Linked DNA regions of Homo sapiens. The protein of the gene in region 2 purifies or fractionates together with the protein of the main gene of each other region. This does not show direct contact. Each region holds a gene or a part of one and is shown on either strand. Other genes may lie near its edges.

Region 1 (3,500 bases), on a different chromosome or scaffold from region 2:
GATAAAGACAACCCCCAGCTAGATATATTCTAGTGAACTTTTAAGGATTTCAAAGACAGAATTCCAAAAGCTTACAGAGCAAAAGATCAGATCCCATATGAAAGAATAAGGATCAGATTGACATTAGATTTTTTTCAACAGCAGCATTCTGTGTGAAAAGACAATGGAGTAGCATTTTTTTGTTTGTTTTGTTTTTCTGAGATGGAGCCTCACTCTGTTGCCCAGGCTGGAGTGCAGTGGTGCGATCTCAGCTCACTGCAACCTCCGCCTACTGGGTTCAAGCGATTCTCCTGCCTCAGCCTCCGGAGTAGCTGGGATTACAGGCACCCGCTACCACACCTGGCTAATTTTTGTATTTTTTGTAGAGATGGGGTTTCGCCATGTTGTCCAGGCTGGTCTCGAACTCCTCACCTCAGGTGATCCGCCCACCTTGGCCTCCCGAAGTGCTGGGATTATAGGCGTGAGCCACCGTGCCTGACCAGGAGTAGTATTTTGATGACCTATTGCGGCACAACAAACTACCTCCAACCTAGTGACTGAAAGCAACAAGCATTTATCATCTGTCATGATTTTTTGGGTCAGGGGTTGGGCAGGGCTCAGCCCACTGCTGCTTCTGCATGGTGGTGGTGGAGGTTGCTTGTTAGTGTTCAACTGGTGGACAGACTGGTCCAGGGGGTCACGGTGGCTTTACTCAATGCCTGGTACCTTGGTGGGAAGGCTGGAGGCTGGGCTCACCTGGAAACGGTCTGCCGGCTGCTCTTTGCCCGTGGTCTCCTCAGCATGGCGGCCTCGGCGTAGTCGCACTTCTTACCTGAAGGCTGATTCCCCCAGAGAGACTGGTGTAAGAGGCTTGGGCGGGAGCTGCAGTACTTCTTATGACCTAGCCTTGGGAGTCCCAAGATGTGACTGCCTCCACATTCTCCTGGTCAAGCACGTCACCAAGGTGATTCTATATTCAAGGAAAGAGGATTCAGATGCCACCTCTTAATGGGAGGAGTAGTGAAGAATTTGCAACAATCGACCACAAAAAGTGCTTTTAAGCATTGAAGGGAAGGAACTTAGAACCAGACTATTATAACTAATCAAACTGGCATTTAAAGATGGGAACATGAGAAATATTTGGTGGCATCTGGGCCTTCAGACACTGCCTGGAAAGACTGACACTGAAATTGGCCTTGGGAGAAATCACTGAATAAGGGCAGAGAAAAATCCAGAGGATGTCACAAGGCACAAATGAAAAAAAATCTGACGGTCAGATGATTTTAAAGTAAATTTGGATGTCTAAAAATCAATCAGGGCCAGGTGCGGTGGCTCATGCCTGTAATCCTAGCACTTTGGGAGGCTGAGGTGGGTGGATTGCCTGAGCTCAGGAGTTCGAGACCAGCCTGGGCAGCATGATGAAACCCTGTCTCTACTGAAAGTCCAAAAAATTAGCTGGGCGTGGTGGCGTGGGCCTGTAGTCTCAGCTACTCGGGAGGCTGAAGCAGGAGAATCGCTTGAACCTGGGAGATGGAGGTTGCAGTGAGCCGGGATCATGCCACTGCATTCCAACCTGGGGGACACAATGAGACTCTGTCTGAAAAAATTAAAATAAAATAAAATAAAATAAAACGCAATCAGCTAAGAACTAAGGAAAAGAGAAAATTTACTGGTAATCAAGTAGCAGTAAGCCTAGATAATGTCATGATGAGGGTTGGAGGGACAGAGACCAGGGGACTTGAGATTGTGCCAAACATCTTCTGAGATGTGGGGAGATATGATATCAACTTCAAAAAAGAATAAAAACAAACAGAGAAGTGGGGCAAATGGAGGGAGTATGTGACGTGCCCAGGGTCCCACAGTCATTATGTGGTAGAGCCAAGTACTAAAGCCAGTGCTATCAGGACCCATAGGTGTGCCAGGCTTTATCATGGGACGATTCGCACATATTTTGTCACTCACCAGCAGAGTAGTATCAAGGCCGCGCCATGCCTAGTCATTTGCTCTTTTCTTCATTTTTGGTCATCTCTTTTGTTCCAGGCTGTGAATGGACAGAGGGAGGGATTACCCCGGTGTTCGAGCCCCGAGCTGTTAGCCACCTGGTCACGTGGCAGGATGGCCGATGTAGCAGCGAATTCCTGGCCTCTCTGCCCCAGCCGAAGTCTCATCTCAGTGTGGCCACGGGCTTCGGCTGTGCAACCATCTTCTGGCTTTTGAAATATCGGTACGGGCAACTGCACTTTCACTCGGGTGCTGGGTTTCCGGGAGAATGAGAATAGGCCGGGGCTGCGTCAGCATCACCCCGCCTGCTGGGCTGTGCCGCAGTGAGTGTGTCCTGGCAGGACAGGATGCAGCATGGCCTGGACCTCGATTGGGTCCAGAACCACGTCCTTTTGCAGAGGGCTCTCTATTGGTTATCCAGTTCCCACCCACATAGGGAAAGGAGGGAACAGAGAGGGCAAGTGACTTGCCGAGGGTCACGGGGAGAGTTCGCAGTGTGTTCAGGCCTGCGAGGCTGCTGAGGAGGCTGACGTCTGCTTTTCCAGGCTTGACACTTCCTCCTCTCAGGCCCTTCCCCTGGGGCTGACTTAGGCTGGCTTTGCTTGGGGCAGCTGGGAGGTCCTAATCCCAGGGACCCAGCTGGACTTGAGCCATAGTATATGCGGTTGTGGCTGCCACCTGGCCATGGCACAGCTGGTCCCTGCTGCCTGCAGCTAGGTGCGGCACATGCTTCCGAGTTCATGTTATACCGTGTTGGTTGTTTTTGGTATGAAAAACAGCCCAGAGTTCCTGAAGTCCTACGACGCAGCCGGTACCATCCACGACTATGTGGTTGCCATGCTGTGTGGCTTGCCAAGACCTCTGATGTCCGACCAGAATGCTGCCAGCTGGGGCTATTTCAACACGCAGAGCCAAAGCTGGAACGTAGAGACGTGAGTATCACATCCTTGCAGGCTGTTCCTCCTGCTCCAATCTGAAGGGCAACCCCGGAGCCAGTGCTTCAGTGGGTGCTTTCCCATCTGGGAGTGGTGGAGGGTTCCCAGAGGCCAGGATCAGGGTCCAGTGCCCCTGGCCTGTCCCAGACACGGGGCATGGATGGGCCCAGTGTAAGCACAGCCCTGAGCCCTTGGGTAGGGGCCTCAGCCATGCTGTCCTGCTCCTCCACAGCCGCCCAGACCCCAGGTGGGCTCTCCCTTCTCTGTGACCATGAGCCCAGTCTGTAGGTTTCAGAGTACAGCTTTCACTCTTTAATACTTAAACTTAGAGAGCCAGGCGCGGTGGCTCATGCCTGTAATCCCAGCACTTTGGGAGGCTGAGGCGGGTGAATCACCTGAGGTCAGGAGTTCGAGACCAGCCTGGGCAACATGGCGAAACCCCATCTCTACTAAAAATACAAAAATTAGCTGGGCGTGGTGGAGTGCGCCTGTAATCCCAGCTACTCTGGAGGCTGAGGCAGGAGAATCACTTGAACCTGGGAGGCGGAGGTTGCGGTGAGCCGAGATTGCACCACGGCACTCCAG
Region 2 (4,310 bases):
TAAATCCTATTAAATGAAGTGTCGATTCCTGACAAATACATTAAAAGTGTTTTATTCCTAGAAGAGTTGGGAAAAGAAATTATTTTCAGCAAGAGTAGGATGTTTGTTAAACTGATTCCTTGGCAAAAAAGAGAAAAAAAGCTTTTGAATTGTGCAAAAAATTGCCCAGTATTATGCTGTCGCCCCAGTTGTCAAACTGCTGTGCAGATGGCTCCAGCCCAGTCAACTTCACCTTCTTTTTAATTTAGAAGATAACAAAATTGTAATCACTTATCCTTTCCAGAGCCAAGGGGGAAAAGGAAGGTATAATCTACAATAAAAAGCGAGCGTTCTGTGTACTGAGGCCACTTGGTGATAAAGAGATGGAGCGCTCCCCTCACAGACTTCAATTAAGAACCTCCCTTTGGACAGGGAAGAAAGGTGTCAAAGAGGAAAAGAAAATTAAATTTGCTTCCTTCCAGGAGTTTTTCCTCATTAGTGCTTGCTTGTCGGTGTTATTATTTTAATCTTACCTTCTATGTGGTGACCAGCTCCTCCGAGCGATGCCCAGGTCGGGCACGGCCCGGGCAGGGCAGGTCTGCAGCGATGCCGTGGCAGAGGTGGGCATACTCCATTTGTTTTGGCAGCTGCAGCCATTGATTCTGCATATTTTTCCTGACAACAGCCCCGGCAGGAGTTCAGTTAGGAATTTAAAGTGCAGTTCATGGTTCTGTGCCACCGTGGCTTTTATTATTATAATATTAAATTAGAAGTTGTCCTAGTGCCTGGTGTTTGCTCAGAGTTTCCAGAAGAGAGGGAAGGGCAAGGTTTAAATGGCATGCAGGACAACTGGAATGCCCCCATCTCTCTCGCTGACACGGATCCAGTCATACCTGGGGCTGGACGGGATTTGGAGGCCCTGGTCATTTGCAGAGTGAATGGTGAAGGGCGCGGAAAAGGTTTGCTTGGAGGAAAGACCGGTTGCAGAGGCGAGGCGGAGGGAGGAGGGGCGGAGGCAGCAGGTCTTTGTTTGTGGTAGGTCTCTGGCTTCCATCAGGGAGGAGGAAAGAGGCTGTGCCCTTCCTGGCTCTTGGCTGCACCACTGAGGACGCTCCGAGGGACAGCGTGCTCACCCATCCTTTGCACAGTGCTGGCCCCAAGCCCCACGGCCTTCCAGCTAGGATTTTCTGCTGGGCTCATGCAGAGGCAGGGGACAGGTGCATGGAAGAGCCGCCCCACCCGACACACCATTGTTTGAAAATCACTGTTCTCTTTACTCACTTAAAAAAGTGTACAGGGAACACCTGTTCCTGGCATAATGCTCCAACCTCGCGGAAGGGGCCAGGTGCCCTTCATCTGGCTCTGGCTGCTTCCGACCTGGGCCCACGTCATCGTTCACGTCCTCTGTGACCACCACTGGTCACGGTGCTCCCTGGCCCAGCCTCCAACCCACCCAGCACCCTGGCATCTCCCAGGCCAGTCTGCTGCACCCAGCGAGCTTCCAGTCAGAAGCCAGGCTGAACGGCCCTCCTGCCCCATCAGCTTCGTGTCTTCTTTTTTTTAAAGAACTGAAATAGTCCCCAAGAGGCCTCATGGCCTGAAGACTCACAATCATCCACCTGTAATTTATGATAAATGTCTGGGAGCATTTACCATTTGCGTCCGTGAGTATTTATAGCCCTGAATGGGCGGGGGGGAGGGGGGGTGGAGGAGGCCCTGCAGCCAGGAGCTACACACCTGTCCCCACTAGTGTCCCCTGGTTGACAGAGCCCCCTCAGCCTCCCCAAGGCTGTCACTGCGGCTGTGACAGCTGAGGAGTGCCGCCTTTGAAAGCCAGTGGACAGTCGCTCCACTAGGGGGAGAGGCCCTGGCCCTGGCGCAGAGGAGGCGTTGCGAGGCGGGACGGGGGCTGGAGGGGCTGAGCAGCCTTCAGGGCAGGGACTGGGCCCTGGGTCACTGGAGACGTTGATATTAGTCCGTCTGCTGCCAAATTGCTCCCCACCACATGAGCCCCAGGGGTTTATGTCCCAGGAAGGCGAGGGTGCCCATCTGAGCGGAATTGGGAGGGGACGGCACCAGCTCATCTCCCTCAGGGCCTTTGCCTCCTGGTGCTGCCCTGGTGGCTGCTCCTGCACCACAGCCCCTGATGGCTGCTGCTAGTCCTGAGTTGCTGGGTTTACCCCCAGCCCACACTTCCCACCTGGGCCTGAGGGTGCGGCCAGTGCCCTAGTCCTAGCCACTACAGGAGTCATTCTGAGACCTGCTGGAGGCCATGGGGTCTTCCCAGGCCCCTCAATCAGCTGCTTCCAGGGTCAGCAGGGCAGGGTGCTGCCAGTAAGGTCCTCAGGGAGCACAGCCCGGCCGCCCAGGCTGGGGGATACTGGGGCAGAGCTTCCAGGTCTGTGGGGCCTGATCTCTCCCCAAGGCTCTCCAGGCCTTGGTGCGCCCTCCACAGTGACCTTCAGAGAGGCTGCACCCCCTCAGAAGAACAGTGAGAAATCTCTCCATCACACGCTCCCTGGTCCTTATGTCCCTGAGGCCACCCTTCCCCACCCCCCAGTGCCTGGAGAAGCGTGAGACTCTGGAGGGGCGCCAGGAGGCCAGGGGTCCTCAGGGCTAGGCCTGGAGCTCGGCCCAAGAGCTGCTTTTGCGAAGCCTGTCTTGAATCCGGATTCACCAGAGAACAAGAGCCTCCCAGCCTTTGGCGTTTCTGGGCCTGTAAAGATGTGTGTACCTCCCAGGCCACTCTGATGCAAGGGCAGGGACCATGCCAGGCCTGGGTTGGGAATGGCTCTGTGACTCCAGAAGCTCCGTCTAAAACTCCAAAGATGCCCAAAAGGCTGTGCTGCTATGTGGAATGTGTATTATTTGTGAGCACGATGCGGCTTCTTCCTCATTTTGCAGAGCAACCTAAGCGGGCAGATGTACAAACCGTGTGTTCGAAACCCCTGAGTCCATGTGTGTGAAAATGCAGGTTTTCTCTTAGAAATAAAGTGGTGACTTGTGCTGTATTCGAGTCGTCACTCTCTGCAGCAACCCCTCTCGATGCCCAGGGACAAGCAGGGGGCCCAGGCCAGGGTCAGCCCCTCTGCCCCAGTGCCCTCATATGGACACTGCCATCCGGCCCTCTCTGCAGGCCCAGGCACTCAGGGGTGTCCACCCAGGCCCCCGCTCGCTTCCTCTGCCTTGTGGAGGGAGGCAGACAGCCCTGGAGCAAAGCAGGCACAGAGAGGCCGGCTTGCTCCAGGGCGGCGGCGTGGGCAGATCCAGCGGATTTGGGCCAGCACTGTCACCGGCTCTGAGGGCCTTCCCTCAGGGTGGAGGGGCTGTCCAGCTCCCTCCCACCTCCTGTGGCACTCTCTCCACCCCACCCCATGGCCTATTCGATGCCATTTTTGGGGGGTTAGGAAACACCACCTTGAACCCAGTCCCCTTCCCTTGTCATTTCTCCTCCTCTGAGCTTAGCCCCAGCTGCTTTCTTCCTCATGTCTTGCTTCTTCTACCTGATGAGCCCGTGAGTATTTGGTAGCAACTTCCCCCATTTATCTTGCTTCCCAGGGGAGATGCGGGGAAGGGAACCAGTGAGCCAGGAGGCGGCCCCTTGCAGGCGCTGCCGCTCTCCCTGGCCCCAATCTCGAGTCCTGGGTGTGTGAACTCAGTGTTGCAGGCCCTGCCGTCTGGGATCCAGTGCCCTCTCCTGTGACCCCACAACTGGGCCTGAGTCTCCAGCAACTCCGCTGGTGCATGTGGGGCCCAAGGCTCCATGCGCTGAACATGAGGGACCCCGGCCACCTGGAGCCTTGGCCTCCTCCTGAGCTGTTGTCACGTGGAAACCAGGCAGGGGTCTGCTCCTCTCAGTGGAATTTTTTCTTGGAACCTGCACTAGGGACTCTCCATGTTTTTGGTTAACTTCCACCTGGTGGCTTTGGCCGAGCACTGGGGCTCCAAGTCAGGTGCTCCATTTCCAAACCATGCAGGCATCCTTTCGGGAGCACACCCACCTAGCTTCGATCTTCCAGAACTGACAACTTGTTGCCAATAATTGGCTGACGTGAGTGTTGAACAAGACAAAACCCAATCCAGAGAGCACTGGGCTTTGTCCTGCCACCGCCCCGCCCAGGCCACTGTACCCCCCCACCACCCCCCCATGCCGCCTGCCTCCCAAGTGCTGGGGATGGAGCAGGGAGGCTGCCCCTCTTGCCCTCCCTCACCTTCCAGGGAGCAGACACCAGCGTCAGTGTGAATGTGGCCCAGCCCATGTGCAGAGGGAGAGGATGCCGGGCTGGGCGTGCATGTTGAAGTCCGTGGCCCAGAGAGGCTTCCAGAGAAGG
Region 3 (3,500 bases), on a different chromosome or scaffold from region 2:
CAACCCCACTGCTCCATTAGGGAAGGCAGCTGTGCCTCTGGCCAAGCAGAGGGGCAGAAGCCCAGCAGTCTGAGCTCTACTCCTGACTCTACCTCCACTGCTAAGCTACCTAACCCCCAAGCCCCAATTCCCTACCTGCAAAAGGGGGATAAGAATACCTGCACCATCTTCTTCACCAGGTTAACGGGGTTAAACAAGAGAAATCCTCCAAAAGCCTTTTCTGGGCTGCAGAATGAGCAGTTGGGTTTCTCTCACGCCTCGCGTTCCGTGTGCCTCCTGGCGTCCTCACCCACTTCTCTGCCTCTGCAGCTTCCAGATGCTGTATGCCGACTGCTACATGAACCGGGAGGAGTTCTGGGAGATGTTTGATGGCTCCTTGTACCACAAGCTGCGAGAGAAGCTGGGTTGCCAGGACGCCTTCCCCGAGGTGTACGACAAGATCTGCAAGGCCGCCAGGCACTGAGCTGGAGCCCGCCTGGAGAGACAGACACGTGTGAGTGGTCAGGCATCTTCCCTTCACTCAAGCTTGGCTGCTTTCCTAGATCCACACTTTCAAAGAGAAACCCCTCCAGAACTCCCACCCTGACAGCCCAACACCACCTTCCTCCTGGCTTCCAGGGGGCAGCCCAGTGGAATGGAAAGAATGTGGGATTTGGAGTCAGACAAGCCTGAGTCCAGTTCCCCGTTTAGAACTCATTAGCTGTGTGACTCTGGGTGAGTCCCTTAACCCCTCTGAGCCCGGGTCTCTTCATTAGTTGAAAGGGATAGTAATACCTACTTGCAGGTTGTTGTCATCTGAGTTGAGCACTGGTCACATTGAAGGTGCTGGGTAAGTGGTAGCTCTTGTTGCTTCCCGTTCAGCGTCACATCTGCAGTGGAGCCTGAAAAGGCTCCACATTAGGTCACCTGTGCACAGCCATGGCTGGAATGATGAAGGGGATACGCTGGAGTTGCCCTGCCATCGCCTCCATCAGCCAGACGAGGTCCTCACAGGAGAAGGACAGCTCTTCCCCACCCTGGGATCTCAGGAGGGCAGCCACGGAGTGGGGAGGCCCCAGATGCGCTGTGCCAAAGCCAGGTCCGAGGCCAAAGTTCTCCCTGCCATCCTTGGTGCCGTCCTGCCCCTTCCTCCTTCATGCCTGGGCCTGCAGGCCCACCCCAGCCACCACTGAGTCCACTCGGAGTGCCCTGTGTTCCTGGAGAAGGCATTCCAGGGTTGAATCTTGTCCCAGCCTCAGCCTGGGACACCTAGGTGGAGAGAGTGGTCTCCGCTCTGAATTGGATCCAGGGGACCTGGGCTCATTCTTCTTGGCTCACCAACCCTGCAGGCCTCATCTTTCCCAAAACCCACTTTGTCTTGGTGGGAGTGGGTCCGCGCTGCTCTGCAGCAGGGGCTGGGGAGTGGACAGCATCAGGTGGGAAAGTGGAGTCCACCCTCATGTTTCTGTAGGATTCTCACCGTGGGGCTGGAAGAAAAGAGCATCGACTTGATTTCTCCAACCACTCATCCCTCTTTTTCTTTCTTCCACCACTCCCCACCCCAGCTGTAGTTAATTTCAGTGCCTTACAAATCCTAAGCTCAGAGAAAGTTCCATTTCCGTTCCAGAGGGAAGGGAACCTCCCTAGGTCCTTCCCTGGCTTGTTATAACGCAAAGCTTGGTTGTTTATGCAACTCTATCTTAAGAACTGCCCAGCCTCAGCTGAAAACCCGAATCTGAGAAGGAATTGCGTCATGTAAGGGAAGCTGGAATTAAGGGAGCTGAGCCAGTCATGGTTGTGGCGTGTGAGTCAGGAGACCTAGGTTTCAGCCCCTCTCTACTGTCAGCGAGCTGTGCAACGTGGGCAAGTCATTGTCCTCTGAGCTGCAGTTTCCTCATCTGTCACATCGCTACAGACAAGACCTCCCTGGAACCCTTCTGATTGTCTTAGACACTGTGGTTGCAAAACCCACGGAAAGCCTCATTTGTGTGGAAAGTCAGAGGAAAAATGATCCAGTGGACACTTGGGGATTATCTGTCATTCAAGATCCTTCCTTCAACCCCAAGGTCAGCTCCCATCTCATTTCCAGAAAGGCTCATACCTGGCTTGCAGGGAAGCATCTGTCTTGTCATTCCAGGTGCCAGAATCCTCTCAGAGTCATTGAAGGGTGTTCACCCATCCCACCCAAGGCTTGGCACACTGCCAGTGTCTTAGCAGGGTCTTGTGAGGGCTGGGGGCATCCAGGCACTCAGAAGGCAAAGGAACCACCCTACCCATTTGGCCTCTGGAGGGGGCAGAAGAAAGAAATAAACCTCATCCTATATTTTACAAAGCATGTGAATTCTGGCATTAGCTCTCATAGGAGACCCATGTGCTTCCTTGCTCAGTGCAAAACTGATGATTCTACTTGCTGTAGATGAATGGTTAACACGAGCTAGTTAAACAGTGCCATTGTTTTGCCAGTGAAGCCTCCAACCCTAAGCCACTGGGACGGTGGCCAGAGATGCCAGCAGCCTCTGTCGCCCTTAGTCATATAACCAAAATCCAGACCTTATCCACAACCCGGGGCTTGGAAAGGAAGGTATTTTGGAATCACACCCTCCGGTTATGTTGCTCCAGTAAAATCTTGCCTGGAAAGAGGCAGTCTTCTTAGCATGGTGAGCTGAGTTCATGGCTTTTTTTTGTAGCCAGTCCTGTCCCTGGCCATCCATGTGATGGTTTTGGATGGAGTTAAACTTGATGCCAGTGGGCAGTGCATGTGGAAAGTATCAGAGTAAGGCTCTCCCCTCCAGAGCCCTGAGTTTCTTGGCTGCATGAAGGTTTTCTTTAGAATCAGAATTGTAGCCAGTTTCTTTGGCCAGAAGGATGAATACTTGGATATTACTGAAAGGGAGGGGTGGAGATGGGTGTGGCAGTGTATGGTGTGTGATTTTTATTTTCTTCTTTGGTCATGGGGGCCAAGGAGAAAGGCATGAATCTTCCCTGTCAGGCTCTTACAGCCACAGGCACTGTGTCTACTGTCTGGAAGACATGTCCCCATGGCTGTGGGGCCGCTGCTTCTGTTTAAATAAAAGTGGCCTGGAAGCTGGCGTTTGTCGTTTCTTGCTTGGGGGACCAAAATGTGGAGTCAGATCTGGGCTCGGGTGCAGGCTGTGCCATTCCCCAACTCAGTTGCTCTCACTGAACCCATGAGCCCATGGCCGAGGGCTAGAAGAACATGCAGGAACTGACAGGTTTATTTCTATCACTGTCAGAGTGTGATTGGAGTAAGTGTTGAAAGGATCCCTCTGTGTGCAGGGTGGCAAGCAGACCAGTGAGAAGGCCACCACTGCAGTCCAGGTGAGACGATGGTGGCTCTGGTTAGGGTGGAGGCCTGGCTTTGTCACTTGGTTGTGACCAATTAATTTTAGCAAGTTAATCCTGTTGAGACTGTTGTCCTCATCTACAAACTAGTGGACCCACTAGCTGTCCATTAAAATGCATTCCTCCATTCTTTGGACACATAGCTAGACTACCTTTCC

The links. Proteins that work in one complex are often made in the same cells at the same time.
Region 1: the proteins of BTBD9 (region 2) and SHPK purify together in Homo sapiens (affinity purification with mass spectrometry; one large-scale study listed by BioGRID and IntAct). This does not show direct contact.
Region 3: the proteins of BTBD9 (region 2) and DHCR24 purify together in Homo sapiens (co-immunoprecipitation; one large-scale study listed by IntAct). This does not show direct contact.

The regions. Positions count from the first base shown.
Region 1 is NC_000017.11:3,622,751-3,626,250, reverse strand, and holds part of SHPK (sedoheptulokinase), read left to right. Parts: intron 1-2,019; coding exon 2,020-2,203; intron 2,204-2,759; coding exon 2,760-2,912; intron 2,913-3,500. UniProt on the Homo sapiens protein: Acts as a modulator of macrophage activation through control of glucose metabolism.
Region 2 is NC_000006.12:38,167,131-38,171,440, reverse strand, and holds the end of BTBD9 (BTB/POZ domain-containing protein 9), read left to right. Parts: 3' UTR 1-2,990; downstream 2,991-4,310.
Region 3 is NC_000001.11:54,849,196-54,852,695, reverse strand, and holds the end of DHCR24 (delta(24)-sterol reductase precursor), read left to right. Parts: intron 1-309; coding exon 310-463; 3' UTR 464-3,069; downstream 3,070-3,500. UniProt on the Homo sapiens protein: Catalyzes the reduction of the delta-24 double bond of sterol intermediates during cholesterol biosynthesis.